2 separate regions of the Homo sapiens genome follow, and region 2 is linked to region 1. Evidence: fine-mapped expression QTL. Tissue or cell type: whole blood. Region 1 holds a variant in brackets; the other region holds the start of a gene. All regions are shown on one strand. Distances are between the middles of the regions.

Region 1 (8,100 bases):
CTAGGTGGCTTAAAAACTGAAATTTATTTCTCACAGGTTGGGAAGTCCAGATCAGGGTGCCACATAGCGGGGATCTGGTCTTCTTGCTGCAGCCTCACATGGTGGGGAGAGAGAGAGGAAGCTAGCTTTCTCATCTCTTTTTATAAGGACACAAATTCCATCATGAGGGCTCCACCTGCATGACCTCACCACCTCCCAACGGCCCCACCTTCAAATATCAACATGATGGGGATTAGGGTTTTAACATGTGAACCTGGGGGACACAAACAATAGACACTATTATTCTCTATAAAATGGGGATGATGAGCCCTACTTTGCTGTCTCTACCAAATGCAATAATGAATGTGAATGTTTCTTCTAAACTATAAATTACTATGCCAAGACCCTAACTCTGATTTCCACCTAAGCACTGACTTTCCCAAGAGCACAACGGGTCTCTAAACCTCAGGAAGTTGGACTATTTTTATTTTGAACTTGACCAAAGCTGTTCATGGTTTCAGAAACTCACACCCCCTTTGGCGATGCCGTGCATGACTTCTGAGCTGCTGACATCTGCTCTTCCAATGCACTTGCAGCAGTCACATTCTGGTGCTCCCACGCCGAGAGGCGGATGTCACTGCCTCCCCTGCCTCGGAGGAGAAACATGCCGGGCCCCAACCTAGTGCACTGACGTGTTGAAACCTGGATTACTTGGATCATAATTCACTTTCCTTTGCCTTCTACTTTATAATAGTTAGGGCACTGTACTGGTTTTTTTATAAAATACGTGCTGGGTGTGCTTTCTCAGCTGAGTCTCACTTCAGGACGACAAAGGGAGTTGCGAAGTGTTTGCTATCCTAGATGGGTTGTTCTGAGACCCTGCACTAGCCACTCAGCCCCACCACTGTCCTATCATAGACAGGAGGAAACAAGAACATGGGCCAAGGTGCCCAGCTAGCAGGATCTGGGGGGCACCAACGCCGAGTGGCTTCTGCTGCCCTCTTCTCTGGAGGAAGGGGGTCCACTGCCCCCAACCCAGGCTAGGTCTCTGTCCACCTCCCTGATGACCTCCCTCTCTGGCAGGAGGCTGTCGCAGGAAACGCTTGTAGCAGTAATTCACAGGGAGGCGTCATCTGCATTCCCAGCAAGGCAGGGAGGTGGCAGGGAGAAGAAAGGCGGGGAGGCCTCTCACGGGGTGGTGACAAGCAGAGAGAGGACCCAGCCTGGCCCGGCTGCAGGTCTGGGGAGAGAGGGCAGGGGGCAGGTCAGATGTGACAGTCCACGAAAGTGAGCTGGAGTCAGGGGCGCAGGAGACAGAGCCACAGCCTCATGGGCTACACAGACTTGGAGAATAATGATAAAATTATGTATTAAATATTATTAGGTAATAAATAAAGAGTAGTGTACCCCAGTGTCCACAGCTGAGTGGATAAACACAATGTGGTCTATACACACCTTGGAATCGAATCCAACCATGAAATGGAAGGGAATTCTGACCCACACAACAATATGGATGAAGCCTGAGGACACTATGTGAAGCGAAATAAGCCCGTCACGAAACGTGAAAAACAGTCTCATTCTACTTGTGTGAGGTCCCTAGCAGGACATAAAGTAGAATGGTGGGTGCCCGGGGCTGGGGGAGGGAGGATGGAGAGTTGATGTTTAATGGAGGCAGAGTTTGTATTTGGGAGGAGGAAAAGGTCCTGGAGATGGGTGGCAGTGGTGGCTGCACAGCAAAGTGAAGGTACTAATGCCACCGCAATGTGCACTTAAAAATGGTGACAATGGTAAATGTTACGCTGTGTATTTTATCACAGAAAACAAAGTGTCACGTGAGGTGCTCATTAGAAATGCAGATTCCAGGGCAGAGTCTCTTAGAGACCCAGACTTCAGGTCTGGGACAGAGTCTGGGCACCTGCGTGCCAACAACCACCCCAGGGACCAGATGCAAGTGTTCTGGGAACACACTTTGAGACATGCCACCCTCCATCCAGCACTGTCCCTTCCTCCATCCTGAGGGGTCTGCAGGCCTCACCACTTTGCCTGCTCACTGGCGGCTGCAGACCGTCCTGGCTTCAGGCCCCTGTTCTGGCTGTGCTGTGGACTTGGCTGAGCCACCCGCTACCATTTCCCAACCTCCACTCACCTGGGAGCCTCCTGTGGCAGGTTCCACAGTCTGTCTATTCCACCGTGTGGACAGACCACATTATGTTTATCCAAGCCTCAAGGGGTTGGTCCCGGACTGTGCCCCAGCCTCCCCACCCAGCTCGACATAACCCCACTCTCTTCCCTTCCTCCCCTCCGCCTGACTGTCCTCACAGCCGGGTGGGGATTCTCCCTGCCACGTAGCCTGCTGTCTTTTCTCCTTGCTCTTGTTTCACAGATTCCTGGTTGGCTCCTTGAGAAACAGGTCCAGAGGTGCTGAACTCCCCAGGGAAGAGTGAGGGCTCCCGGCAGGCTCCTGGGGAGCAAAGCCCGGCTCCCTGCTCACATGTGGTATGGCCTTGGGCGGGGCACTTCCCCTCTCTGTGCCCTGTAACATGGGGATAATTCTAGTACCCAGAACCCCCAAAAAGTGGGGAGGGTGAATCAAGATAAAATGTGCAAACTGTTCAGACAAGAGGCCAGGCAGGTGAGTGCTGTTGAAGTGGGGGCTGCTGCAATGACTGACAAGGCGAAACTGACGCGCTCTGCATGCCACTTCCGGGATCCCAGTGGAATTTAAAATACAAGCTTCCCCTAGCTCTCCAATGCTGGGTTTGTCTAATTTCGTGCTTCAAAACTTTGGCACAGATTGTGCCTGTGTTTGTCTGTGTGTACCCCAGTGTCTATGTGGGTCTGTGGGTGTGAGCCCCCATGTCTGTGTGTGCCTGTGGGTGTGAGCCCCCGTGTCTGTGCCTGTGGGTGTGAGCCCCCGTGTCTGTGCCTGTGGGTGTGAGTCCCCGTGTCTGTGCCTGTGGGTGTGAGTCCTGTGTCTGTGTGTGCCTGTGGGTGTGAGCCCTGTGTCTGTGTGTGCCTATGGGTGTGAGCACCATGTCCATGTGAGCCTGGGCAGCTGCTCCACAGGAAGGGACCAAGACAATGGTTTAAGCTACACCACAGATGACACCTCTCCAGCAGGAAGCCTGGGGTCGAACCTGCCCCTGGGAGACCCCCTCCCTTCCCTGAAACACCTGAATTTCTTCTAAGTACCCCCCTACCCCATGTCATCTTGCGCTATTACTGCTGCTGCTGACACTAATACCTACTTAAGTGGGCTGGTACGAGAAAAAGAGAAAAGAAACCCACACAGGTTATGCCTGCAGCAGCAGCGAGAATCAAGTGAAATTGCCCAGTGCATGCCCAGTCCCCAAATCCCACACACAAGATCGGATTTTCTTCCCTTTCCCTCCCCTGCCTCTCACAACTCTCGGGTGTGACTAAATGTGGAAAATATTAGTGTTCCTTAATTCTTTCCTGGAGTTTACAACAAATGAGAAATGTATGCTACTATTGAGGTCCCTGTGTTTCTCCCCGCATGAAAGCTAATAAATCTCTCTCTCTCCCTGACTGTACACACAGTGTTGGTTGTCAAATGTGATTTGAGTTTGCCGGCAGTCAGCCACGAGGTGTGGGTGATTGCTGAGGCCCTGGGAAGAGATGGGTGCAGGAGAGGTGGATGTGTGGAGCCGGGGCATGGGGCCCACGGGTCTGGGGACGGGCTCTGGGGGTCTAGCGAGGTGGGCTGGCTTCGTGTGTCTGTGCATTTTATTTTCTCTGATGGAAGAGATCCATCGGTTTCCTCTGTGGGATCTGAGACCCAGAAAAGGATTAAAAGGGAGAGTCCCCATCCAAAGTGGGGTGGGGCTGCCCCGTCTCACAGAGAGGGGGCCTGGTGGGCCCCTCAGTCAGGGCTTCTCCCCCAGCTCTCCAGGGAGCCACTGTGGCCTGGCTCCCACATCCTGCCACACCCTCCCCGGCGCTGGGGTCTGAGAGGTGTGGCCACACCCTTCCCCTGGCTGGTGGCAGTTACCAATCAATCCCAACCACTGCTGCTGGCCCCGGGGGACCTGCAGGCACCTGCATCCTTGGGCTCAAAGGTGGGGAGAGCCCAGATCTCTCCAGAAACCTCCCTGCTCACAAGTTGGGGCTGTGCACCCCAACAACAAAATCCCTGGTGCTGAGCTGGTTGGGGGAGTGGGAGCACCTCAGCAGGAGGGGGAAATTGCCCAGAGGTGCCCCTCTGAGACTGCTGGAGGTGGGTGCTGTCTGCAGACACGCAGGCACCATGAGGCCAGCACATCACTCCCGCTGCCTGTGGACATTGCTCTGGGACCCCAGGTGGCCCGGGCGGAGGAAGAACAAGATCCTTGT[G/A]GCAGCAAAGGTGGCAGCAAATGCCCTATCACATTCTTCTTCCCTTTGGGAAATGTCTGAAGTCATTGCCACTGCAGGCTTAACATCCAGTGCCTGCAGAGAGGGGAGGGAGGGCAACACGGAACCAATGCATGTCCTTGCTACTCTGGTGAACCTGGTCTTTAAATCCTGTTCTTATGCCGCCCCGTTCCCTGTAGCCACCAGCCCCGCTGAGACAACCCGCTGCGGCAGACAGATTGGGGGTTCTGGTCCCGTTCCTGGTCCTGTCGCCTTGTAGTGTGGGACCCTCAGCAAGGAACGCAGCTTCCTTAAGAGTTTGTCTCCTGAAAATGAAGTGAATGGATCTTGCCCCATGGGGCCTTACGAGATAGATGTATGAATGCCGGGCCCTGGCGCCGTGCCAGGCTCACCAACCTTTACTCATCTCTGTTCCCTTTGTTCCCGCTGCACAGAAGTTCAAGGGCAAGAGACTAAGGCTGCAAGCTCCCCACTGAGAAGCCAGGCAGGATGAATTCTCAGATCAGAGCCTGCACTCAGGTGGGCGTGTGCCCTCCAACCCTCCAAGGCCAATGTCAGCCCCCTCACAGGTCCCCCAAGGCTGCATCCTTCACATACTTAAGGCCAACTGGGGTGAAGCACACAGCCAGGCTGTGCTGGACTGGAAACTGTTCTGACAACCCCAGATCTTCCAGTTTTCGACATGAAACTGGCCATCTTTTCTGCGCATGTGATGTTTCCATGGGCCAGGTCCTCTGCCCTGCTTTCGTTAGTGGGGACACGGTGGTTCCAGATGGTCCTAAGGGTGCTCCAAACTTGTCCTGCTAACACATGGTGCAGTGACGAGAGGCTCACTACCTGTCAAGGGCCTTCACCCCATCCTCAGGTGCTTCGGAGTCACAGACCCCCTCTCACTGAGCCAACCATCCCCTCCACCTTCTCTGCCTGTGACACCCCCTGCAGAGGTGGAGATAGCAGCCAGCTGGGTCCACAGACGTGAGAAGGCGCCAGCTCCACCCGGGCCCCTGTGCTAGGGCTGGGACACAGAGGGAAGGGTGGGCTCGCTGCCATCAGTCTACGCATCATCTACGCTGCCATCAGCCTCCAGCTGGCTGTCTGCACTTGAGGCCTCTGGTCACCCCATGCAGCTGATGATGCCCCACCCCCACCCAGGGTACTTTGGGAAGGGGTGTTTTTGGGGAAACAACAAAATGCCCCCCTCCAGCCAGGTTTTGAAGGCTGCTCTGCTTGTCTGAGGCCGAGGGCCCGGCCCGGGCGCACTGGGTGGCCCCACACCTGGCTCACAACACCTGCCCGAGGAGGGGCTTCCTGGTGTGGAGGGGATGTGACTGTGCTCTGCTGGACACGGATCCCAAGGCAGGGCTGCACTGGAAGGTCTCCCTCCGCCTCCCAGAACCTCTCCACTTTCCTCTGATTTCCATAGCTGCTTCCATAGAGGTTTCTTTCAGAAATAGGATTCTGCTGCCAACAATTTACAAATGTAAAGGGTCTGAAAACCGTGGCCATGGAAGAGCCCTTTCTGTGTGGATGGGATGACGCCTGAGCAAGAGTCCCCCAGAACGGGGTCACTGAGCTGACAGCAGGGACACCCTGTGGAAGGTGGGGACAGGCCCCATCATCCTCCGAGGCTCTGGACAGGGCCTCCCGTTTGCACAAAACCAAGCAACACTGGCCTCCACCATGGTCTCAGGACACAGGAATCCTCCCATTCTGAAGGTTTCTTCCAGTGATCTTTATTTATTCCCTCGGTTCCTGCCAGTAAGCACACCTGGATGATGGAGCTATCGCACGAGGGAAGTGATCAGGACAGGGCACTCTGAACCGGTGCAGGCCCCGGTTCCCCCACAGACACAGCTGAGCTGCTGGGCTGCGCACTTCCCCGCCATGTTTTCTGCCAGTAAAGCTGCTCCAAGGCTGCAAGGCAGGACTCCACAGGAAAGCACAGGACTTCCCACAAGCAGCCCTGCCCTTGGAGATGGTGCACTTGCAAATCCTCAGCTCCGCGGTCGGTTTCCTCCTCTGTAAAATGGGTTGATGCCTGCCCTGAGGCCACTCTGTGGAAATGACATCGAAGGTGATAGCTCCTGCGAGCTCTGGCATGAAGCAGATGCTTCCCAAGCCCAGCTCAGCTCGGAGGAGACCAGGAGCTCAACCAGGGGCCCAGAGCCAGAGCAGCCAAGCCCAGGCAGGGGGCGGGCCGAGGTCACTCCCTGTGGAGGCTTGGCCAGTCCCCAAATGCTTCCTCTGAGACACTCCTTAGGCCTGCATGGGGGACTGCAGAGCTGTGGCCTTACTCTCCCCACCAGGGTACACCTGGAGGCACTGACCGCTGAGCATCCACGTGCAGATGGGACAAGCACAACGCATGGTCGGGCAGGCCTGGGGCAGATCCTGGCACCCACCGCGTGCCCCAACCAACTAGCTGGACTATTCGCACCTCCACGTGCCCATCTGGAAAATGGGGTGCAGACACATCAGCCCACGGCGGTCACCGCCCTCCACCTGCTTTCCTCTCCTGGTCCTGGCAAGACACATGCAGGACCCTGTCACTCCTCCACACAACCCTCAACAGCTCCCTGAGTCCAGACCACGCACAGCAACCCTTGTCCAGCCCTGGCGTCCTCCCCTTGCACTTCTCTTGCACCCCAAGCTCCAGCCCCAGGGCCAGCACACTTGCCATTCCCTCTGCCAGGAATGCTCTCCCCAGAACCCCAGGGCTCATCCCCTTCCTCCAGGCCTCTACTCAGCTGTGGCCTCCTCAGAGATGGCACCACCTCTATCCCCGACAGAACCTTCATGGCACTTGTCACTCTCATGTCAGGTTTTGTCATCCATCCTTCCCAGTAGGAGCTCGACACAGGCAGGACCACGTCTTGTCCCCACCACATTCCAGAGCCTAGAGCAGGGCTCAGCACATGGCTGGCATCACCACAATCCCGGCTCAGCAAGGAGGGGTCAGCAACCTGGGCGCTGGGCCATCCTCTGCTCCCTGCCGTGCCATGCTCTCCTAGAAACAGTGAGCTCCTGCCTCAGTTTCCCCATGTCCTTGAGGATGGCCTCCACTCTGAGTCCAGTCCAAGCCACACACCACCTCCTGGGTGTGCAGCAGCCCCCAGGCCCTCCTACAGTCCCTGGGAGGGCTCTGGCCATTAAGGACAGGCCTCCCTCTGAGTGGCCCCACATGCTTCTCCTAAGGAGCTGGACATAAAGAGACCAACACCGTCATCTCCAGTTCTCTGGGAGGAGGGGGATTGTGCTTCAAGGAGCCCATGCTGGGGACTCGACACGCCCACCAGCCTTTCCTCATTCCTGTCTCCGCTTGAGGACATGGGGTTCCCCGAGGATGCCCCCTGCTCCCTGTGAATCTCCCCTGCTGGGGTGGAGGACAACACAATGAGTCTCTCAAAGGAGCAGAGTTAGAGCAAGTTATGGATTTCCTTTGGTTGCACTAAATTAAAACTGGAAGCCGGCTGCCCAGGATGTGAGGGCTCCGGTTTATGCTGGCGGACAGCGGCTCAGTCCCAGTCCACTGGGCCCACTCCACAGGCAACAGCCACCCACAGCACAGGCACATAGTGCGGAATGAACTGAGGGCTTTGGGGGCTGCCCCATTGAGCCCCTGCCTCCTGGCCTGGCTGAGATCTGGAAGAGGCAGGCGGGACAGGAACCCATGGATTTGGCACACCGCCGGGCGTGGTCCTCACCATCTCGGGCCTGCTTCACACCCTTTTCCATCCAGGCATCAGAGCC
Region 2 (8,100 bases), 250 kb after region 1:
GGTTTAGGGGTGAGAGCTCCCTCCCCTCTGTTGCCAACCCCAGGTGCTGCACCATCTCCTGTTGGTCCCCTCAACCTCACCCACATCTCAGGTAAATGGCCTGTTCATTAAACTTTTTTCAGAAATCCCTGTGGAGTGAGACCTCTCTTTCTTGCTGGGGCCCTCCTGGTGCATAGAGTTACATAGAAATACAACTTATATTTCCTTGAGAAAATATATTTTCTTATTTGAATGCAAGCTCCTTCTGGCCTCCGGGACTTTGAACCTGCAGTATCTTCTGGTTGTTTAAGAACTCATCTCTTCACCAATAAAACAAACAAAACATGTTTTACATATTTAGCTGAGCTTGGCACTCATTAAGGGCATAACAAATACTAGCTAGCATTACTGTTATTGTTACCGTTGTGTTAAATGTGTATGAAATCACAGGGTCTTGGAATGGAAATAGAGGTGCTCACTTGAATTGAAAGGGGCATGGTTTTAATGTTGTAATAGGATGTCTCAATCTAATATTAGTTAGTGTTTTGAAATATTGTATCTGTGCCAATAATTCATGTTTGGTGCATTTCTGTAATATCCTTTGCGTGCCTGTATTTTTCTTTTTTTGTGTGACAGTCTTGCTCTTGTTGCCCAGGCTGGAGCGCAGTAGCGTGATCTCAGCTCACTGCAACTTCCGCCCCTGGATTCAAGCTCCTCCTGCCTTGGCCTCCTGAGTAGCTGGGATTACAGGCACCTGCCACCACACCTGGCTAATTTTTGTACTTTTTAGTAGAGATGGGATTTCGCCATGTTGGCCAGGCTGGTCTTGACCTCCTGACCTCAGGTGATCCGCCCATCTTGGCCTCCCAAAGTGCTGGGATTACAGGCGTGAGCCACCGCGCCCAGCCGTGCCTGTATTTTTCAAAAGAAGTGTTATATTTGGGACTTTCTTATTTGTTTTAAGTTGAAATATATTTCAATATTGCATGAAAGGGGAAAAACAGTTAAGTATACAATGTTCAATAAGTCAGTGTCTTGTTTCATTAAATGCCATTTAAAAATAAAATACATATGGTTAAAAAGTGAAAAAATGTATTTCTTCAAAGGGGCCTTCCCTGACCACTGTCCAAATCAGGGACCCCATTATTCTCTCTCTCACAGTCTCAGCCTATGCCTTTCACAGCAGTTACCACATTTTGTAATCACAATTTTCCTTCCTAGGTTAAGGCTTGTCTCTCCCACTAAACTATTAGCTTGACAAAGGCTTTCTGAACTCATCTGCTCTGTGCAGCTGTGTCCCCAGTGCTGTGTCTTAGTGAGCAGACACACTAGGATACTGCAACAAAGAGGCCCCCAAACACAGCAGCGTGCATAACACTTATTTCTTCCCCACGTGATAATGCGGCCGGTTGGCCCAGGCTTTCATGGTGGTTTGAAGGTGTTCACAAGCTCCAGGGCCTCCGCAGACCACTTAACTCTTTAGCTACCAGGACACAATTTTAAAAACCCTTGGCCAGGCATTGTGACTCATGCCTGTAATCCCAACACTTTGGAAGGCCAAGGTGGGAGGATCGCTTGAGCCCAGGAGTTAGACACCAGCCTTAGCAATATAGTGAGGCTGTGTCTCTTAAAAAATAATTTAAAAATTAAAAAAATTTAAAAACCCACTTATTCAGACCAATCCCACTCTCTTTGGCCTCAGCTTCAGGTCCAGGCTGCCCAGATCCTCATTCTCCCAACCAGAGGATCATCTGTGTGGCTTCCCAAACTACAGAGCAAGTTCCCTGAGGGGAAGTCGGTCTCTCACAAATGCCACAGGGCCACTGCATGCACTCTGTCACTTTATAAAATAGTACTTATTCCTTCTGTGGTTTACATCTGCCCACATCCCTGACCTTTGAGTGAGTTACTTCACCATTCTGTGCCTCAATTTCTTTATCTATAAAATGGGGATGACAATAGTTTGCCTCCTAGGACTGTCAGAAGAGTTCGACAAGCAAAAAGCATTTGGACTTCAACTTAGCACATGACAGATGGTCTCTGAATAATAATCAACATTATTGTCTCTTGATTCCCTGGACTTGCCCATGAAATCCAGAGAATGAAGTGCAACCAGAACTTCATTTTCTTCCTTTTTTTTTTTTTTGAGATGGAGTCTCACTCTTGTCGCCCAGGCTGGATTGCAATGGCGCGGCCTCACCGCAACCTCCCCTCCCCGGTTCAAGCGATTCTCCTGCCCCAGCCTCCCGAGTAGCTGGGATTACAGGCGCCCTTCATCACGCCCAGCTAATTTTTTGTATTTTTAGTAGAGACGGGGTTTCACCATGTTGGTCAGGATGGTCTCGAACTCCTGACCTCAGGTGATTCACCCGCCTCGGCCTCCCAAAGTGCTGGGATTACAGGCGTGAGCCACCGCACCCGGCCCAGTACTTCATTTTCAGATGCAGACATGAAGGACCAGAAGGCTGAAGCAACCTGCCCAAAGCCACTATGCTGGCGGGTGGCCGAGTTTGGGTTTAATCCAGGCCCGAACCTCAGTTCCCTCAAGATAAAGTTGGGGTGATTATGGCACCTTTCTCAGGATTAGGTTGTGAGGCTCAGATGCCATCATGCAATCATGGCAGGCACACGGGGGCCCCTCTTCAAACGTCTGTGCGCTTCCCTTGTGCCCCGCCCTGGCACACAGCCGCCCCCGCGGAGCCCAGGGATCCCAGCCCGGCAGTCCTCCGTCAGCTGCTTCTGTTTGGATGGCGGGGACGGCTGGGCCGACAGAGAGGCCCATTGTCTCCGTCCTCTGGGGCTCTATTGTTGGGGCCTCCTCCTGGGTTGCAGCCCCACGGACAACCCCAGCTGTCGCTTGGGCCTGGCTCAGCTTACCCCGGCGGTGAGGGTGCGGGTCGGGGACGGAGACGCGTGCACCCTGAAGACAGTAACTAGGCCTGCTCTACAGAGGGAAACGCAGGCTCTGAGAGCCTACATGTCTTCGCCGGGAGTGCTTGTCCCGGAGCTGCTCGCAGACTGGGCCGGGGGTGGGCTCGGGTCGGAGAGGTCACGGGGCTCCTTAGGTCACAGGCGGCAGGGCCAGAGAAACTCCCCCGCCCCTACGTTTAACTCGCGGAAACAAGGGCCCAGAGAGCCCAGACGCCAGCCCAAGGTCACACAGCGAAGCCCCGGCACAGCCCGCCGGGAACCTGTCGTTTCTAACCCCCAGCCTCTCGCCGTTTCTACCCAGCTTGGGAAGCGCAGGAACAGGACATACGGTGGTCGCGCCCCTTCCGCGAGGCCGGGGTGAAACCCGCTTGGCCCTCCCGCCAGGGGGCGGAGCTTCCGAACCAGGCGGGATTCCACCGGGTATTTGCCTGCGGAGGCGGGACTTCGGGCTTGATGGGCGTTGGGGGTGGCCTTCCTGCGGGCAGGCTCTCTGTGTCGCAACACTGGCGGGGCGGGCCAAATCGGCCAGAGCTCTGCCCCCAGAGGACGCGGCTAAGCCCGGGGGCGTGTCCTGGGCTGGCCCCACCCGCGCCCCGCCCCGCCCCGCCCGGTCGCGGAGCTGCGGCCAGCTTTGGGAGGGCCGGCCCCGGGATGTGAGTGCCGCGGGGCGAGGGCGGGGGTGGGCTCCCAGGGGTCCCGGTGGGCGGGCGCGCTAGGGCGAGGGCGGGGACGGCCGGGCGGGCGCGCCAGGTAAGGGCCCAGATTTGCTGGTGAGGGGTGAGGGACGCTCGGGACGGGTGTTTCCAGGCCCTCCCGGCGCGCCAGGCCAGCCCCGCGCCCCTGCTCGGTGGCCCGAGGGACGCGCGCCGGCCGCGGGCCTGGGCCCGGACCCGGAGCGGTCGGGCGATGTGCGCGGGTCTGACGTCTGCGCTGCCCAGCCCCCTGGCTACGCGGACGCCCCCACGGAGGCAGCCACTGGGGCGGATTTCTGTCTCTGGGTGACGACTGCCAGGGTGTGATGGGAAGGGTTAGCAGCGCAGCGGGGTCAGGGGATCCCCGCCCCCCGCCCTGGCTCAGGTTGGGTCCCGACTTGGGTTTCTGAGTGCTTACTGTGCTCAGCTCCTCAGTTGCATTCTCTGAGTCCTCACAACAGCCACACATTTTGCAGCCGAAGCCTTGTGCCACACAGCTGTGGGGGCATTTATTACGGTGCAGAGGTGATGCGCGGAGGCCTTGCAGCCAGACACACCTGAGTGCACGCCTGCTTCTCCACAGACCTGCACTGTGACCTTGGGCACACCTGGTCTGCTCTCTGAGCCTCTGGTGCGATTGTGGTGCCTACCCCCAGGGCTGCTGTGAGGACTGGATTGGAATTGGGTTCCGGGAAAGGCAGCCAGTTTAAGCAGCTGTTGTTGAGGGGCCCTTGTCTGCGGCTGAGGGGCTAGTGGTGCTGGGCAATGGCTGGTGGGTCAGTCCAGGCGGGCTCGGGAGGGAGCTGCTTTCTGCCGAGGCTGCCCCAGCTGTGCGTCTGTCTTTTTCCACACGGTAGGCTACACACAACCCAGCTGTACCAGCATGTGCCAGAGACACGCTGGCCAATCGTGTACTCGCCGCGCTACAACATCACCTTCATGGGCCTGGAGAAGCTGCATCCCTTTGATGCCGGAAAATGGGGCAAAGTGATCAATTTCCTAAAAGGTATGGAAGGTCCCCCTTGGACTCTCATCTGCTTCCTCCAACCCACCTGTCCTCTCCGTCCTCATCCCCAACATAAGCCTCAGGCTCTCTCCCATCTTCAGTTTCAGCCCTCGGATGGCCTTCCACCCATGCTTCCGCCCAAAATGATTTTTCCAACACAGACTCCTAATCACGATATGATGTCCCTGACTCAGACTCTCCCTGGCTCCCCATCCTGTGGGCCTAAGTCCTGCCTCTGCCCAAGAGGCCTAGTGGAAAGGTAGCTGATTACTGATGGGCACAGGGAAGGTGAAGCTTGGAGGAGTCCATTTCCTAAGGTTCAGAGAGTCAGGAGGTAGAGCACCTCCACCGCACCTCTCTTGATTACAGATGGGGGAAATTGTGTCCTAGAATGATTAGGAAACATGTGCACCCAATTCCAGTCCAGTCCTCACAGCAGCCCTCGGGGTAGGCACCACAATCGCAGCAGAGGCTCAGGAGCTCACTGTAACCTCCGCCTTTCAGGTTCAAACAATTTTTCTGCCTCAGCCTCCCAAGTAGCTGGAATTACAGGCGTGAGCCACCACACCCGGCCCTGATTTCTTAATATGGCACTCATTATAAGATTGTAAAAGCCCACCTGTAGACCGAACTGGGCACACTGGCTGCCTGCTTGTGACCTCTTTCCAGGGAAGGACACAGCTCCCATTAGTGGCTGAAGTAACACAGTTACAAGAGGCGGAGTTGGGTTTGGAACTCAGAGCTCCAGGCGCCCTACCTTTAGGGCTCATCCCCTTGAGCAAAATGATGCTTCGAAGAGCATATCGTTTTAACTGTGGTTTGTAATCAAGGGGCCTGATTTAGGTGGGAAATTCACTTAAACTTGTTTTAAAAGGAAACATTATGTCATCAAAATGGGAAAAGGCAGTTTCACTTGCCATAAATAGGTCATGGTAAAAAAGTAAATGCAATGAAAACAACAGTATAATTCAATCCAGGCTGGTTACTATTGCCTGCAGGCTGTGAGACTGATTAGTGGTTTGAACGGAAGATGAGCAAAGCACAGGCAGGTGTTGCGAGGCCATGCCACACTGAGCCTCCTGTAATATCATCAGAAGGTGGAGGGAGGCCGGGCGCAGTGGCTCGTGCCTGTAATCCCAGCACTCTGGGAGGCCAAGGCTAGGAGAACACTTGAGGCCGGGAGTTTGAGACCAGCTTGGGCAACATAGCAAGATCCTGTCTCTACAAAATAAAAATAAAAAACTTAGCTGGGGGTGGTGGTATGCACCTATAGTCCTAGCTACTTGAAATGCTGAGGCAGGAGGATCACTTGAGCCCAGAAGTTCGAGGGTGCAGTGAGCTATGGTTGTGCCACTGCACTCCAGCCTGGGCTACAGAGCAAGACCTTGTCTTGCATTTATTTATTTGTTTATTTATTTATTGAGACAGGGTCTCACTCCCATCACCCAGGCTAGAGTGCAGTGGCGGAATCAAGGCTCATTGCCACCTCAACCTCCCTGGCTTAAGTGATCCTCCCACCTCATGTTTTTGATATTTTGTAGAGATGCGGTCTCACTATGTTGTCTAGGCTGGTCTTGAACTCCTGGGCTCAAGCAATCCACCTGCCTCAACCTCCCAAAGTGCTGGGATTACAGGCGTGAACCACCACACCTGGCCAAGACCCTGTCTCTTTAAATGAATTAAAAAAAAAAAAAGGGCGGGGGGAAGGTGGAGGGGGAATTCCTAAGAAGAGTTTTTCTCACTCTGAGGGTCAACATCCCTGACCCTTGTGCCACCTGCTCCTGAAGGTTGTCTAGCACACCTGAGCTCTCCTTGTGACTATCAGTGGCTTGGGAAACATGGGGATTGCTGTGTGTACGATGTTCATTGCTCCCTGGCCAGAGGGACTGGCCACTGTCCACAGTGGCTGGGGAGGCTACCCCTTCTCAGAAGGCCCACAAGCCAGCAGTGCCTACCTACCCCTGGGGCAGGGGCTGCCACAGGCCAAGTCTGCAGCCTGTGGGAGGGTCTGGGGCTGGCCCTGGCCTTGAGGTCAGTGGGGAAGCAGGATGCTCCCTCTGTGGTTTCAGAAGAGAAGCTTCTGTCTGACAGCATGCTGGTGGAGGCGCGGGAGGCCTCGGAGGAGGACCTGCTGGTGGTGCACACGAGGCGCTATCTTAATGAGCTCAAGGTACAGGATGTCGGGCCTGGGGGGCTGCGGGCCTGGGGCAGGGGGCTGCTGGCCAGGAGTGGCCAGAGGCAGGAGGTGACTCAGCCTGGGGAAGCCAAGTCTCACAGGGCACCCATTCATGTCCCTAGTGTTGGAGGAACATGGGAGTCTGTGGTCCCCAAGAGAAGGAGAGAGGTCATAAAAAGGCAGACCTCAGTTTGGGCCAGGCCACTCTGAGGGTGGTGTCCTCCCCTTCTCCAGGGCGTATGAAAGCCTTCATAGAATTTTAGGCTTCTACATTATGACTTTCAAGCTGTGCTCTGTCGACACGCCTCCGAGACCCCAGCCCCTGTCCTCCAACCATACATAGCTCTTTCACTTTGGTCTATTTTGTTTGTTTGTTTGTTCATTTTTTTGTTGGTTTTTGTTCTTGAAATGGAGTCTCACTCTGTCGCCCAGGCTGGAGTGCAGTGATGTGATCTCGGCTCATTGCAACCTCCGCCTTCCGGGTTCAAGCAATTATCCTGTCTCACCCTCCTGAGTGAGTAGCTAGGATTACAGGCGCGTGCCACCATGCCTGGCTAATTTTTTTTGTATTTTAGTAGAGATGTGGTTTCGCCGTGTTGGCCAAGCTGGTCTCGAACTCCTGAACTCAGGTCATCTGCCCACCTCGGCCTCCCAAAGTGCTGGGGTTACAGGCGTGAGCCACCGCACCCACCCTATTTTTTATATTGGGCTGAAGTTTAAGACTCTGGTCTAAGTACTTCTGCTGAAGTTTTGTTGAAAATTGTTGGTCTAAAAACTAATTTGAAACCCTCAGGGCTCAGCAGAGAAGAGAAACAAGTGGGAGGGCCGGTGGTAGAGTCTGAGGTGAACTCCTGCCCCTTCCCAAGGGGCGGCTCCTCAGCTCCACTGTGGGCCCGGCATGGCCAGAGCACCTGGTCTTCAAAGAGAAGCCAGGAATCCAGATTATTAAGTGACATTTCCTGATTTTTTTTTTGAGACTGAGTCTCGCTCTTGTTGAGCAGGCTGAAGTGCAGTGGCACGATCTCAGCTCACTGTAACCTCCGCCTCCCGGGTTCAAACAATTTTTCTGCCTCAGCCTCCGAAGTAGCTGGAATTATAGGGGTGAGCCACCACACCCGGCCCTGATTTCTTAATGTGGCACTCATTATAAGATTGTAAAAGCCCACCTGTAGACCAAACTGGGCACACTGGCTGCCTGCTTGTGACCTCTTTCCAGAGAAGGACACAGCTCCTATTAGTGGCTGAAGTTCTGAGGGCTGAGGCATTCAGTTCAGTGCTCTTTGTAGGAACAGAGGGGAGGTTGGGGCGGGGGCTTG

The links. PIP is the estimated chance that this variant, and not a neighbour inherited with it, causes the effect.
Region 2: it holds the start of HDAC11, and the variant in region 1 is fine-mapped to the expression of HDAC11 in whole blood (TOPMed, PIP above 0.99).

What each region holds. Positions count from the first base shown.
Region 1 is chr3:13,231,357-13,239,456 of GRCh38, forward strand. It overlaps a transcript of IQSEC1 not described here. Among named protein-coding and RNA genes, the nearest start is that of IQSEC1, 160 kb to the left of the region's middle. RefSeq lists enhancers at 479-980, 6,165-6,769, 6,770-7,373. The variant G/A (reference allele first, on the strand shown) is at 4,333.
Region 2 is chr3:13,476,787-13,484,886 of GRCh38, forward strand. It overlaps HDAC11 (histone deacetylase 11), which reads left to right and starts at 3,520. Exons shown (of 10, transcript NM_024827.4): 1 at 3,520-3,563; 2 at 4,460-4,608; 3 at 6,678-6,778. The coding sequence starts at 3,562. HDAC11-AS1 (HDAC11 antisense RNA 1) reads right to left here and starts at 3,267. Exons shown (of 2, transcript NR_046690.1): 1 at 2,857-3,267; 2 at 201-299. RefSeq lists enhancers at 2,876-2,935, 3,585-4,241 and silencers at 3,396-3,885, 6,583-6,877.